3 linked regions of the Homo sapiens genome follow. The protein of the gene in region 1 purifies or fractionates together with the protein of each later gene. This does not show direct contact. Each region holds a gene or a part of one and is shown in the gene's direction. Other genes may lie near its edges.

What was found.
Region 2: the proteins of MT1F (region 1) and ERI3 purify together in Homo sapiens (affinity purification with mass spectrometry; one large-scale study listed by BioGRID and IntAct). This does not show direct contact.
Region 3: the proteins of MT1F (region 1) and GNB1L purify together in Homo sapiens (affinity purification with mass spectrometry; one large-scale study listed by BioGRID and IntAct). This does not show direct contact.

The regions. Positions count from the first base shown.
Region 1 is NC_000016.10:56,656,623-56,659,803, forward strand, and holds MT1F (metallothionein-1F), read left to right. Parts: upstream 1-1,336; 5' UTR 1,337-1,436; coding exon 1,437-1,464; intron 1,465-2,052; coding exon 2,053-2,118; coding exon of another isoform or gene 2,119-2,159; exon of another isoform or gene 2,160-2,160; intron 2,161-2,450; coding exon 2,451-2,542; 3' UTR 2,543-2,681; downstream 2,682-3,181. UniProt on the Homo sapiens protein: Metallothioneins have a high content of cysteine residues that bind various heavy metals; these proteins are transcriptionally regulated by both heavy metals and glucocorticoids.
Region 2 is NC_000001.11:44,338,258-44,342,533, reverse strand, and holds part of ERI3 (ERI1 exoribonuclease 3), read left to right. Parts: intron 1-3,211; coding exon 3,212-3,489; intron 3,490-4,276.
Region 3 is NC_000022.11:19,816,875-19,821,150, reverse strand, and holds part of GNB1L (guanine nucleotide-binding protein subunit beta-like protein 1), read left to right. Parts: intron 1-427; coding exon 428-553; intron 554-4,276. UniProt on the Homo sapiens protein: Acts as a critical regulator of DNA damage response (DDR) signaling via specifically regulating phosphatidylinositol 3-kinase-related protein kinase (PIKK) family proteins.

The DNA.
Region 1 (3,181 bases):
AATTTTTGTATTTTTAGTAGAGATGGGGTTTTGCCATGTTGGCCAGGCTGGTCTTGAACTTCTGGCCTGCAGTGATCTGCCCACCTCAGCCTCCCAAAGTGCTGGGATTACAGGCGTGAGCCACGGTGCCCGGCCTGACTTGTTATTATTTAAAAGATTTCAAGCCATAGGGAAGTCCAGCAATAGAGAAGACATAGCTGGGCCTTATTTCAGAGAATTTCTCCTGAGAGGCTGGCTGGATTCAAATCAGTGCACAGCTTTTTAGCTCTGTGACGATGAGCACGTTGCTTGAACTTTCTTTGTTGTAGGTGTCCATTTATTAATATGGGTTCATGCCTAGTATTTCCCTTTACAATTGTTGTAAAGGTTCAAACAATGAAAATGATTAAAAGGAGACTGGCACAGACTCAACCTTAAGCAATTGCTAGTAATATTGAAGGGAATTAACCACTTGTCTTTCTTACTTCTTATGTTAAGTTTTTCTTTTTCTTTTTCTTTTCTTTCTTTTCTTTTCTTTTTTTTTTTTTTTTTTTTTTTTTTTTTTTTTTGAGAGGGAGTTTCACTCTTGTTGCCCAGGATGGAGTGCAAAAATGGTGCGATCTCGGCTCACCGCAAACTCCGCCTTCAGTGATCTCGCTTCTGGGGGCATCCCATATTTTCCAAACTGCCATCCTATAGTGGGGTGCCCGTCGAGGCTGTGGGGAGACCCCGGAGAGATTTATGCAAAGGAGGACCCAGACAAATGTGCCCATTCAGCCTCTCAAGAGTGAAGAATGGAAGAGAGGGGGGCAGAGCCCTGTGTCTTCCGTGTTGCTGTGCGCAGGAGAAACATGGCCAAAGGACTGAGGTGGGGTGACAGGGACAGGCAATGCTAGAGATCCGAAGGTCACATCCTCGGCCTGTCCTTTGCACACTACTCCCTTGCTAGGCTCCCTGCTCCCGCCAATCTAGACAGTGGCGCAAGAGACTGGGGTTGCACTGGGACTCCAGGAAAGGCTTAGCTGTTGACGAAGGACCGGGGCGGGGCCGGGGGGCGGGGCGAAGGCCAGGATCTCCAGGTACCCGGAACCCCAAGGGGCGGGTGTAGCAGGCAATCTTGGCGAAACTGGGAAGGGCGGGCAGGAGGGCAGGGAAGCCGCTCACCCAGGCACAAAGCGCCTCCCGCTTGAGCGGACTCCAAAGGGACGGTCCGCGGTGTGCAGCGAGCTGCGCTCAGGGGACCTTGCGCCCGGCCCTTCTGCTGCACACAGCCCACCCAGGACCTCCCGCAGCGCTGACAGGCGGGGCGGGTGCAAAGACGGGGCGGGGTCTCTGCGCCCGGCCCCCTCCCCTGACTATCAAAGCAGCGGCCGGCTGTTGGGGTCCACCACGCCTTCCACCTGCCCCACTGCTTCTTCGCTTCTCTCTTGGAAAGTCCAGTCTCTCCTCGGCTTGCAATGGACCCCAACTGCTCCTGCGCCGCTGGTAAGGAACGCCGGGTTCCGTGCCTGGGGATGCTCGATTCCCAGACACCATAGAGAGTGTTCCTGGGTTTGAGAAGGTCGTATTTTGAGATCTCAACTGTAGGGGACTCCTTGACTTAGTCCAGTGCTTTCCTCTTGGCCAAGATCCTGAGAGCATTTCCTTCCTCTCTGTGCCTCTGTGTCAGCGTTGAGGGTACTGAGGCTCAAGGCTGTCCTGCTCCACGTCATGCGGTTTGTCCCAGGGCTGTTGGCTGAGCCCCAGTGCTCTGACCAGGCTTTGAGCAGCAGGATTAGATAGGAGGCAGGGGACATTGCCTCTTCGGGGTTCAGGACAGAAAGTCGAAGTCGCCGTCTTCCCAGGCTGTGCCTGGAGCCTGGGACTTTCCTTTGGAGTGCAAACAGGAGGCTGCTTGGCCTTCCCAGCATGAAGGGAGAGGACATGGGGCTTCTCTTCCTCTGCTCTGAGTGGGAAAGGAGCTCTGAGGGCTGGCCCCGCACAGAGGAGGGGGCAATGGAGACTCATTAACTCACTGCTGTACCTCCTGCAGGTCACTCGCCGCTCACTGGCTTTTTTTTCTCTTTCTCGCAGGTGTCTCCTGCACCTGCGCTGGTTCCTGCAAGTGCAAAGAGTGCAAATGCACCTCCTGCAAGAAGAGTGAGTGTGAGGCCATCTCCATGGTCTGGGGCTGTGGCTAAGGTTGGGATGGAACCCAAGGCTGGCCCTGAGTGCATGCTTCTGGGGAACTGGCCTTCCTTTGTCCCCGTAGGTTGTCACTGCCTTTCTAGTCTTCTGCCCTGTGCAGGGCGCCTGGGCAGCTTTCTCATAGGAAGACCCACCCCAGATATTTCCCAGTTGTCTCCTGACAAAGCCATACCCTCCTGAACTGAGGGTCCTTTGTGGCTGGAGGCTCTGTTGGGGGCCTCTGTTGGGGAGGGAGGTCCCTGGGCAAGTTGGCTGTGACCTCTCATGCTCCTCTTCTTCCCCAGGCTGCTGCTCCTGCTGCCCCGTGGGCTGTAGCAAGTGTGCCCAGGGCTGTGTTTGCAAAGGGGCGTCAGAGAAGTGCAGCTGCTGCGACTGATGCCAGGACAACCTTTCTCCCAGATGTAAACAGAGAGACATGTACAAACCTGGATTTTTTTTTTATACCACCTTGACCCATTTGCTACATTCCTTTTCCTGTGAAATATGTGAGTGATAATTAAACACTTTAGACCTGATTCTGACTTCAGTTTCCCTTATGTGCTTCAGAAATCAGAGACTGGGGTGGGGGATCGAACTAGGGTTGCAGACTCCTGGGCTCTAAATGGAAATCTGAGTCCCTAACAATCAGAGTGCATTAAGGCAAGCCAGGCTGCCTCACTGTGCTTCCTCTTCTGTAGAATGGAATAACACTTCATCAGGTCATTGGTGGGGATCCAGAATACAGGATCACCTTCATTCTCAAATGTGGCACAGAAACTTCTCAATGCCTCCTGTTCCTTCTCTGATTTCTCTGCCCAACTTCAATTCCTCTTTGGATTTCAGGTTAGAAAGTGACTACACGGAATGGAATCAAACCCCTTAGTTATTTGAATTCTACACCGGGCTTCTCAAACTCCAGGGTGAAGGAGGGGTTTTTAATTCCTATCCATTCCACATCTAAACCTTGGTAAATGAAATAATACTAATGATGGAAGTCATGAAATTAAATTCAATATACAAAATCTGGCCGAGCAGG
Region 2 (4,276 bases), on another chromosome or scaffold:
CCATCTATCTATCTGATACACATCTAATCAGAAACCATGAGTTCACATTCTTCCTGCCAATTCCAATCCAACACCACAGATTTTCTCCCTTTCCATATTTTAACTCCTTTCTCTTAACAGTGAGAAACCTGGGTCCCATTATGCTTAATATATGCACTTCTTTGATCAGTTCCTCTGTAGGTAGCTAATCCTCATTACTGCCACTGCCCTTTACCCTTCATGAGTGCCTCTTTTACCCTGCGTGTGTCACCCCACATCAGACTGCCAGCCGACATGGATGCTCTCCACATCCCCCTCGGCTCTGACATGCTGCACCACACCTTCCCACTTCTGCAAGGATGTCTTCCTCACCCTGCCTGGGCTCTGACAGTGTCCCCCAGACCTCTCTGGCTCACCCTACTCCACCCGTTGTAGATATCTGCCCTCTTCTGCTGCACCTAATGGCTTTAGGATTGAGTTTTTCAGGAAGGGAAGAGGAAGAGCTACCCTCTGTTTCTTGACTTGAACTGAGCTTGGTTGTTAGAAGTAAGGGAAGTGTGGAATCCAGTAACTGCTGATATGTGGAGGCCTGACCTCCTAATGTCTACTCTCAAGACTTCCTACGAGAGAAGTTTTTTTGTTTTGTTTTGTTTTGTTTTGTTTTTGAATTATGGTCTTGCTCTGTCACCCAGACTGGAGTGCAGTGGCTCCATCACAGCTCACTGTAGCCTCAACCTCCTGGGCTCAAGTGATCTTCCTACTTCAGCCTACCAAGTAGCTGGGACTACAGGCATGCAGCACCCCGCCTGGCTAATTTTTAATTTATTTTTTGTAGAGATTGGGTCTCACTATGTTTCCCAGGCTGGTTTCGAACTCCTGGGCTCAAGCAATACTTCTGCCTCAGCCTCCCACAGTGCTGGGATTACAGGTGCAGTCACTGTGCTTGGCCAAAAGAAGCTTTTTGATGTAGATGAAATCAGGTGAGAAAGCAAGGCCTGCAGGCAAGAGGACCACTGGCCATCAGAATAGGGTATATATAGTATGCTCTGTCAGAGGTCTGGAGCATTTTAGGGTTGCAGAAGACATCGATATTACTCTCTGAGGCTGCCTTATGAATTAATTGGATTTGTAGGCCCAGAATCTGGGGATCCAGGCTTGGCCAGGTGGGCATAGCCCAATAGGATAGTAGTAATAACATTAGGATAATATATATTAGGCTGTTATATGCCAGGCACTGGTCTTAGTGCTTTACATGTGTTGTCTCATTTTGTTCTCACTTAAGGAGTAGGTGCTATTGTTATTGTCATTTTACAGATGAGGAATTGAAGAACACAGCATGCCCAAGGTGCCATGGGTAGTAAGTGGTAAAGCTAGGATTCAAACTTGGAAGCCCTCCTTACTCATCATGCTTAATTGCTTATAGTATTTGGTAGACAGGATTGACTGACTGTATATACTACGCATATTCTGTGCACACTGTAGAACATTAGGACTTTCAGAAGTCTTTACACTTTTTTATGGGGTTAGAGAAGAGTCTAAGTCCTTGAGGGACTTTGGATCCAAACTAGAATGGGTAATTTGAGCAGACTGGTGTCTTCCATCTCATTAAGGCTTCCAGTACTATTCAGGAATAGGCGATGAGAAGATTCTGGCTTTCAAAGGGATATTGGCCCTCTTGCCCTTCCAGGAGACTCCATATTGAAACTCAAGCCAGCGTTTGTCTACCTGGGCTGAGTTTTGGCTGTATTTTTGGTGAGGCTATAAAGCAGTGGTGAAAACAAGTGCTGTGCTTGTGCAGGATCCATGAAGAACTTAAAATATTTTTTGGTCTTAGCTCCACTGAATCCCCCTGAAATCTCATTATAGGGATAGGGAAATTGAGGACCTACACTAGCGTATATCCTACTATATATATAGGCAAGTTACTGTAGCTCATTCAGTGAGTCAGGAGAGAGATGGGAAGACAGCCATACTTGGCATTATCTGCTTCTGTTCAGGTGGTAGTGGCCTCATTGCCTTTGAGTACGCGCTGGACTTCACAGGGTGCTATCCCTCTACCCTATGTGAAGGGAGCCAGGTGCCCACTTGCAGCCATCAGAGGCAAGCCTTTGGTTGTGTTGGAATGAGGCTTCGGAAAGCACAAACTATGGCCATTACTGTATTGTACAGTGAGATTTCTTATTTGAGGATTAAAGTTGAGAGAAATTTGAATGTTGAGTATTAAAGGGAGAAAGACAACATTTCTGCTTTGTTCCTTTTTTCTTTTTAAGGAAGTTTGAGTTATTCGTGAGTAAAACTTAGGCTTTGATTTTTGTATTTAGTTAGGCCTCTGAGGAGCAGGCATTCTGCAAATTTAAGGGGAAAACTTAAAGGAAAAGTGATTTGATTTTTTTTTTTTTTTTTTTGCACATGTTCACTCAGAAAACTTTACTAGACTTTTAGCCATGTTCCTATTACTGCCACATCTGGGTTTTCTTTTTCTTCCCTATTTAAAAAGTCCCGCAGTCATTCAGGGCCTCGAGTAGAGACCGAGTCTAAGGCAGCAAATGAGAAGGCCTAAGGCTGCAGCCAGCTGTGCTCTCCAGGCACTGTTCATTCCCCCAGGGTGCCACTTACTAGTGTGGGGGTTGGGGGATCACCAGAATGTCAGAGCAAACCCCTGTGATTCGCTTTGTTTGCCTTCACCTTGGGAGAGGGGAGGAGGGTATGTGGAGACATCAAGATACAGACTGGAAAGCCAGGGGCAAATGGCTCCTAGTGGAGCTGAGAAAAGAACCTTGGACATTTTCTGCTGCTTGTCTGAGTCTACTTAGCTTCCAGGACTCATTGTACAACAGGGTCACCTCACGTTACTTTGGACCCATAGCTTTAATGTTAACTGTTGCCACCTGAGAAGTGACTGCACAATTTTTCTCTCTTCTCTCTTTTGAACTTTAGAGCTCCATTTAAAGATGCAGGCCAGTGTTGCATGTTGTTTTGAGAATGATCTGGGAGACTCAGAGCTGTAATAATGCTGCAGGTGCTGCTATTAGGGTCTTGAACTTTAGTAACGAATACTATGATTTAGAAAAGGGGCCCAGAAACACTGGGGAGTGGCCCATGTTGCGTGGATATTCCTGAAGACTAGATGGAACAGGGCCACAGTGGGAGGGAGTAACCCAGGCTCTCTGTTCTTTTTTTTTTTTTCTTTCTTTTCTTTTTTTTTTTTTTTTTTAAACTTTCCTCCCCTAAGTTTTAGATGCTTCTGGATGTTCAATGCTAGCACCTTTACAGACTGGAGCAGCTCGATTTTCTTCGTATTTACTTTCAAGAGCAAGAAAAGTGCTGGGCTCCCACTTATTTTCTCCCTGTGGTGTTCCGGAGTTCTGCTCCATATCCACCAGAAAGCTGGCGGCCCACGGCTTTGGCGCATCCATGGCGGCAATGGTGTCCTTCCCTCCCCAGAGGTATCACTACTTTTTAGTGCTGGACTTTGAGGCCACGTGCGACAAGCCACAGATTCATCCTCAGGTAACTGTTCCATCATTGCTTTAGAAAAGGTGGGGGGGGCAAGGAGGGAGGGAGGATAGTTTTGCTTCCTGGGACACAAAGGAGCTTTCTCATGCCTTCCTGTCTTTTAGCTACTCATTTAGAGTTCCTGTCTAGGAAGCAGGACTTGTTTCAGGTATGCTAGTGTAAGGTAGACCTGAGAAGTCTCTGGAGAGAACTGGGTACATTGTTTCTCTCTAGTCTCAGCTTTTGGGAATCAAAATATTTCCTTCTCCCGTCCTTCCTTTCTCTGTTCTCTTCTTTCCTCCATTCTCCTGCTACTGCCACTTGTTCCTTTAAGGAGTGCTATAGTAGCTGGCCTCCAAGATGACCTCAATGATTCTTAACTCCTGCTATTCACACCCTTGGTAGTTCCCCTCCTGCACTGAATCAAAGATATTCCTGTATAGCTAATAGAATACAGTGGAAGAGATAATGTACGACTTCTGAGGGTAAGTTATAAAAAGTATTGCAGTCCACTTTGCTCTTTTGGACCACTTGCTCTGGGGGAAGCCAGCTGTCATGCTGCCAGGACACTCAAGCAGCCCTGTGGAGAGGCACATGTGTGTAGGAACTGAGGCTCTTAGCCAAAATCCAGTGCCCAACTTGCCAGTCATGAGAATGAGCTATCTTAGAAGTGAATCTACCAGCCCCGGTCAGGCCTTCAGATGACTGCAGCCCCGGTGGACATGTGACTTCAACCTTAGGAGGGACTTTGAGCCAGACCAGCCAGCTAAGCCACTCTCAAATTCCTGACTCACAGGAACTG
Region 3 (4,276 bases), on another chromosome or scaffold:
TGTTTGAGGGTGCTGGCCAAGGGGCATGGACTGCTCGCCACCCAGGCTTGCTGAGCTTTCAGCACCCACCAGCAGACACACTGTCCCTTGGGGGAGGCAGGGACACACACACACACTCTTTGTTACAGACGCAGGAGCAGGCACGACCACCCAGCGTGCATTACTGTGGCATGGCTCCCCCTACCTCCAGAGAAGCAGATCTGCCTGAGTTACCCCTAGAGGCTCCTGAGGGTCCCCCGGTCCCCTCTCTGGAAGAGGAGCAAGGAGTGCTTTGCCAGTTTGGCCCTTAGTTCATATTTAGAGCTGTTGGCTTTTCAGCTCAACCAGCCTAGATGCCCGCATCCCACAATGTGGCCTCCAGGCTGGCCCCAGAGCATTCAGCACACCCTTCTGCCCCCTGACACCCTGCTCGGCTTGTCTGAAACAGGTCTCAGAGTGGCCTGGTACACATCTGGAGCCTGCAGACGCGGAGAGCGGTTACCACCCTGGATGGCCACGGCGGCCAGTGTGTGACCTGGCTGCAGACGCTGCCCCAGGGGCGCCAGCTCCTCAGGTGGGTCTCCAAGGTGCAGGAGCCAGGTATGGCCTTCGGGGGAGTCAGGAACTCTCTGATGGAGGCTCTGGTGTCCCCCACTGAGGGGCAGAATGGGGTGGGGGAACCAGAAGGGGCCAGCAAAGGGTCCGCAGCAAGGGCAGGGTGTGCAGGTCCAGCCCCTTGTCACAGGGAGGCAGGCAGGTCTGCCTCTGCATCTCCACCATCTCCACTGGACCCTTCATGCTCCAAGCTGGAGCCAGGAGGTGCCAGGTGAGGAGGCCAGAGCTCCAGGGCTGGTGACATCTGAGGTGAGCCCAGGCGCAAGTTGGTGGGAGGGCCTTCACAAGGGCACTGGGTCGTGGCTTGGGAAACTGGGCAGGGGTGAGGGCATTTGCTGAGAGGAGGGGAATGGGATGAAGTACAGGCTCAGGGATGCAGGCAGTGGTCCCAAGGAGGGCCTCCCTGCCCACTGCCCATCCTGCCTGGGCCGTGTGCCATGAGCATGGCAGGTCACACACGGTGCCGGTGGAGGCCCTAGGAGCTGGGTGTTCCGGCAGCTGAGCCCTGGCCGTGTGTGTCCCTTCACTAGGTTATGACAATGCACCTGACTCTTCCCAAGAGGACCCAGCCCCTGATGTTGTGCCACATACGGCTATGTGGCTGGCAAGATGGTGGCTGAGTGGCCAGGGGCGGGGCGCAGGGCTTGGGTGTATAGTGCTGTCCCACAGCAGTGTGCTTCTGCGTTTCTGAAGTGGGCGTGGTAGTGAGGGCCATCTCCCCACCTGGTCCCCCCTGCAGTGTCTCCTGTGGTTTCTACCCCTGCAGTCTCCTCCCTCAGGGCCCCGAGCTCACGTGTGTGTTCTGTACCCTACGCATCACTTGGGGATTACTTGTCCAGACTGTACCCCAGCAGGAAGGGTCCACAGAGGTGGCCTGTCCCCATTGGTATTCAGACCCCACTGTTCTAGCCTGTGCTTAGCACAAGGGCAGGTTTCTGGGTGCCCCCATGGTTCATGAGGCCTTAGCCCATCCCGAGACAGTGTGACCCTACCCTCCGTGACTGCTGTGCTGTCTGGCCAGGTGCCTGCTGGGAAGAGCCTAGTGAACGTATGGCGATGGCTGTGTCCCCATTGCAGTGTCAGCCTGTGCCTTCAGCAGAGCTCGCCCTGGCCAGGGGTCCGCATTGAGCCCAGGCCCCTCCTCAGATGAGCTTCTGCCTCTATCCCATGGGCCCAGGTCCCAGTCACCACAGCCCCTCTACAACTTGGCCTCCTGTGGCTGTCGCACCATCCTCCTGCATGGGTGGCAGAGCCTCATCCTGAGGTTACCCAGCTCACAGGGCCCTGCTTCACACGCTGGTGCAGCTGCTGGGTAAGCAGGAGGTGGCGGAGGAATAAGAGGGCCTGGCAGTCCTGGTGGGGGAGACCCCACGTGCTGCGGCCCTGGAGGGCCTGCCTCTGAGTGTGGTGAAGGACAGTGGGGCTGGGTGCTGGGCAGCTGGCAGCAGAGCAGGGAGGGGCAGCCCCCGAGGGTTAGCCCAGGGCTGGGTTCTGACATCGCCCCCGTGGTCTTGTGGAGGTGATGGGGCTGAGACACCAGGCCGGAGGTAGGCCAGGAAGCAGCAGACAGGGGCAGGTGCGTGAGGGGCTTCTCTGTTTCCCATGGGGAGTGGGAGGGACAGGGCATGGTGGGACAGGGAAGGCCTGCAGGGGGCTGACAACAAGTCCTCCTTTGGGCTGCCTGGATGCTGGAGCAGGCTATTGTCCTTGATCAGAGTGACATCTGCCCCTGTGTGGGGATCGCTGCCACCAGCCCAGGAATCCTGAGCACGGGCCTGCTGCTGTCCTGGGATTTGCCTTGCGTCATATTCAGGGAACTCCGTGCCATCACCATCACAGCCCAGAACTCCAGAAGGACAGGCCTGTTCTCCTGCTCTGGACTCGGTGCCTGGTTCATGGCACTGTGGAGTATAGTCCCTGGAGAATGAGGCCTGTCTGGCCCCCACCAGTCTGCAAAACATGTCTGTGCTAGACTCACGCGGTGCCTACCACCTGGGAGATGGCTGCAGGTGACGAAGGCACCAGGGTTGTCCTGAAGAGCAGAGGCCCTGAGCCTGTGTGCTTGCAGAGCCCCGTGTGGTCATGCCTGCATCCTGGCCAAGCCGACCCAGATCCCTCACCACTGGTGCAGGGGGCCTCAGAGTGGGTTTGGTCTTTGATTGTCAGAGTAGACTTCATTTCTAGAACCCCACCAGGCCATGTGCATCAGGAGCTGCTGTTTGTAAGTGTCCTCCTGAGTTTTCAGCCACAATGTAGCCCTTGGTGGTCCCTTGCGTAGGTGCCTTGTGGTATCAGGCTGTCCTGCAGACAGGAGCTGTGCCAGGCCTGGTGGGCGGTCTGGGAGCTGACGTTCGAGGGCACCTCCCCTTCCTGCTGGGATGGTGCTGTAGTGGCTGCTTCCCAGGCAGAGCCAGCCACGGGTCAGGGGGTCTGTGGACAGAAACTGCAGGTGTGGAGTGCCAGGTGCGTCTGCACTGTACTAGAGCCTGTGGGCCGCCACCCGGCCTGTGCTCAGCTGTGTTTGGAAGCCAAGTCTCTCCAAGTGGCCCTTGAAGGAAGTGATGGCTTTCATGTTGATGGGAGGTGGGAGGACGCCCTCAGCCTCCCGCATGCCAAGGACACACCTGTGCCTTCGACAGCCACCTCGGCAGGGTGTTTTTTAATCTTTTTTCTTGTGAAGTATAATGTACTCACAGAAGAGTGCAAGACAAGTGTTCAGAGCATTGTATTACGGCTGAGTGAGCACCTGAGCAACCACCTTCCAGTCAAGAAGTAGAGCGCAGGGCCCCCGAGCCTCTGAATCCCTGAGCTGCTGCCACCTGCTCTCCCTGGAGATAGCCCCTCATGCCCCAGGAGGTAGCCCCTCACGCCTCATTTTTGCTATATTTATGAATGTATGTCTCTGAAAAGCATAGACTATTTTGTCTGCTTTTTTCTTTGGAAGCGTGGAGACATAAGGAGCAGCATCTGTGTGTGACTTCTCTCACTCAACTTTATCTCCGTGAGCTCCGTGTGTTGCATGTAGCTGCAGTCAGCTGTCGCTGTTTTCTTTTTCTTACGTTTTTTTTTCTTTTTTTGAGACAAAGTCTTGCTCTGTTGCCAGGCTGGAGTGCAGTGGCATGATCTTGGCTCACTGCAACCTCCGACTCCCTGGTTCAAGTGATTCTCCTGCCTCAGCCTCCCGAGTAGCTGGGATAAGAGGCATGTGCCGTTACGTCCAGCCAATTTTTGTATTTTTACTAGAGATGGGGTTTCACCATGTTGGCCAGGATGATCTCCTGACTTCATAATCTGCCCACCTTGGCGTCCCAAAGTGCTGGGATTACAGGCATGAGCCACTGTGCCTGGCCCCTAATGGTGTCTTTAATGAACAAAGTTACTCATTTTAATGGAGTTGATTCAAGTCTGCCAGGCTTTCCCCTTATGGAGAGTGCCTTTGTGTCTTGCCGGGAGTTCCTGCACCGAGGTCCGAGAGACCTCTCTCCATGTCTCCCAGGAACTTTACTGTTGTCCCTTGTAGATCCATGGTTCAGCTGGAATTCACTACGGTGTGCAGTGAAGGCCCTGGGTTTCCATGTGGGTACCCAGCGGTCCCGCCTTCCCCCACCTCAGTGCCCCTTGGATGGGGTGGGAAGGGGGTGCCAGGCAGTCAAAGAAGCAGGGTTGGGGGGGTGGTGTGGCA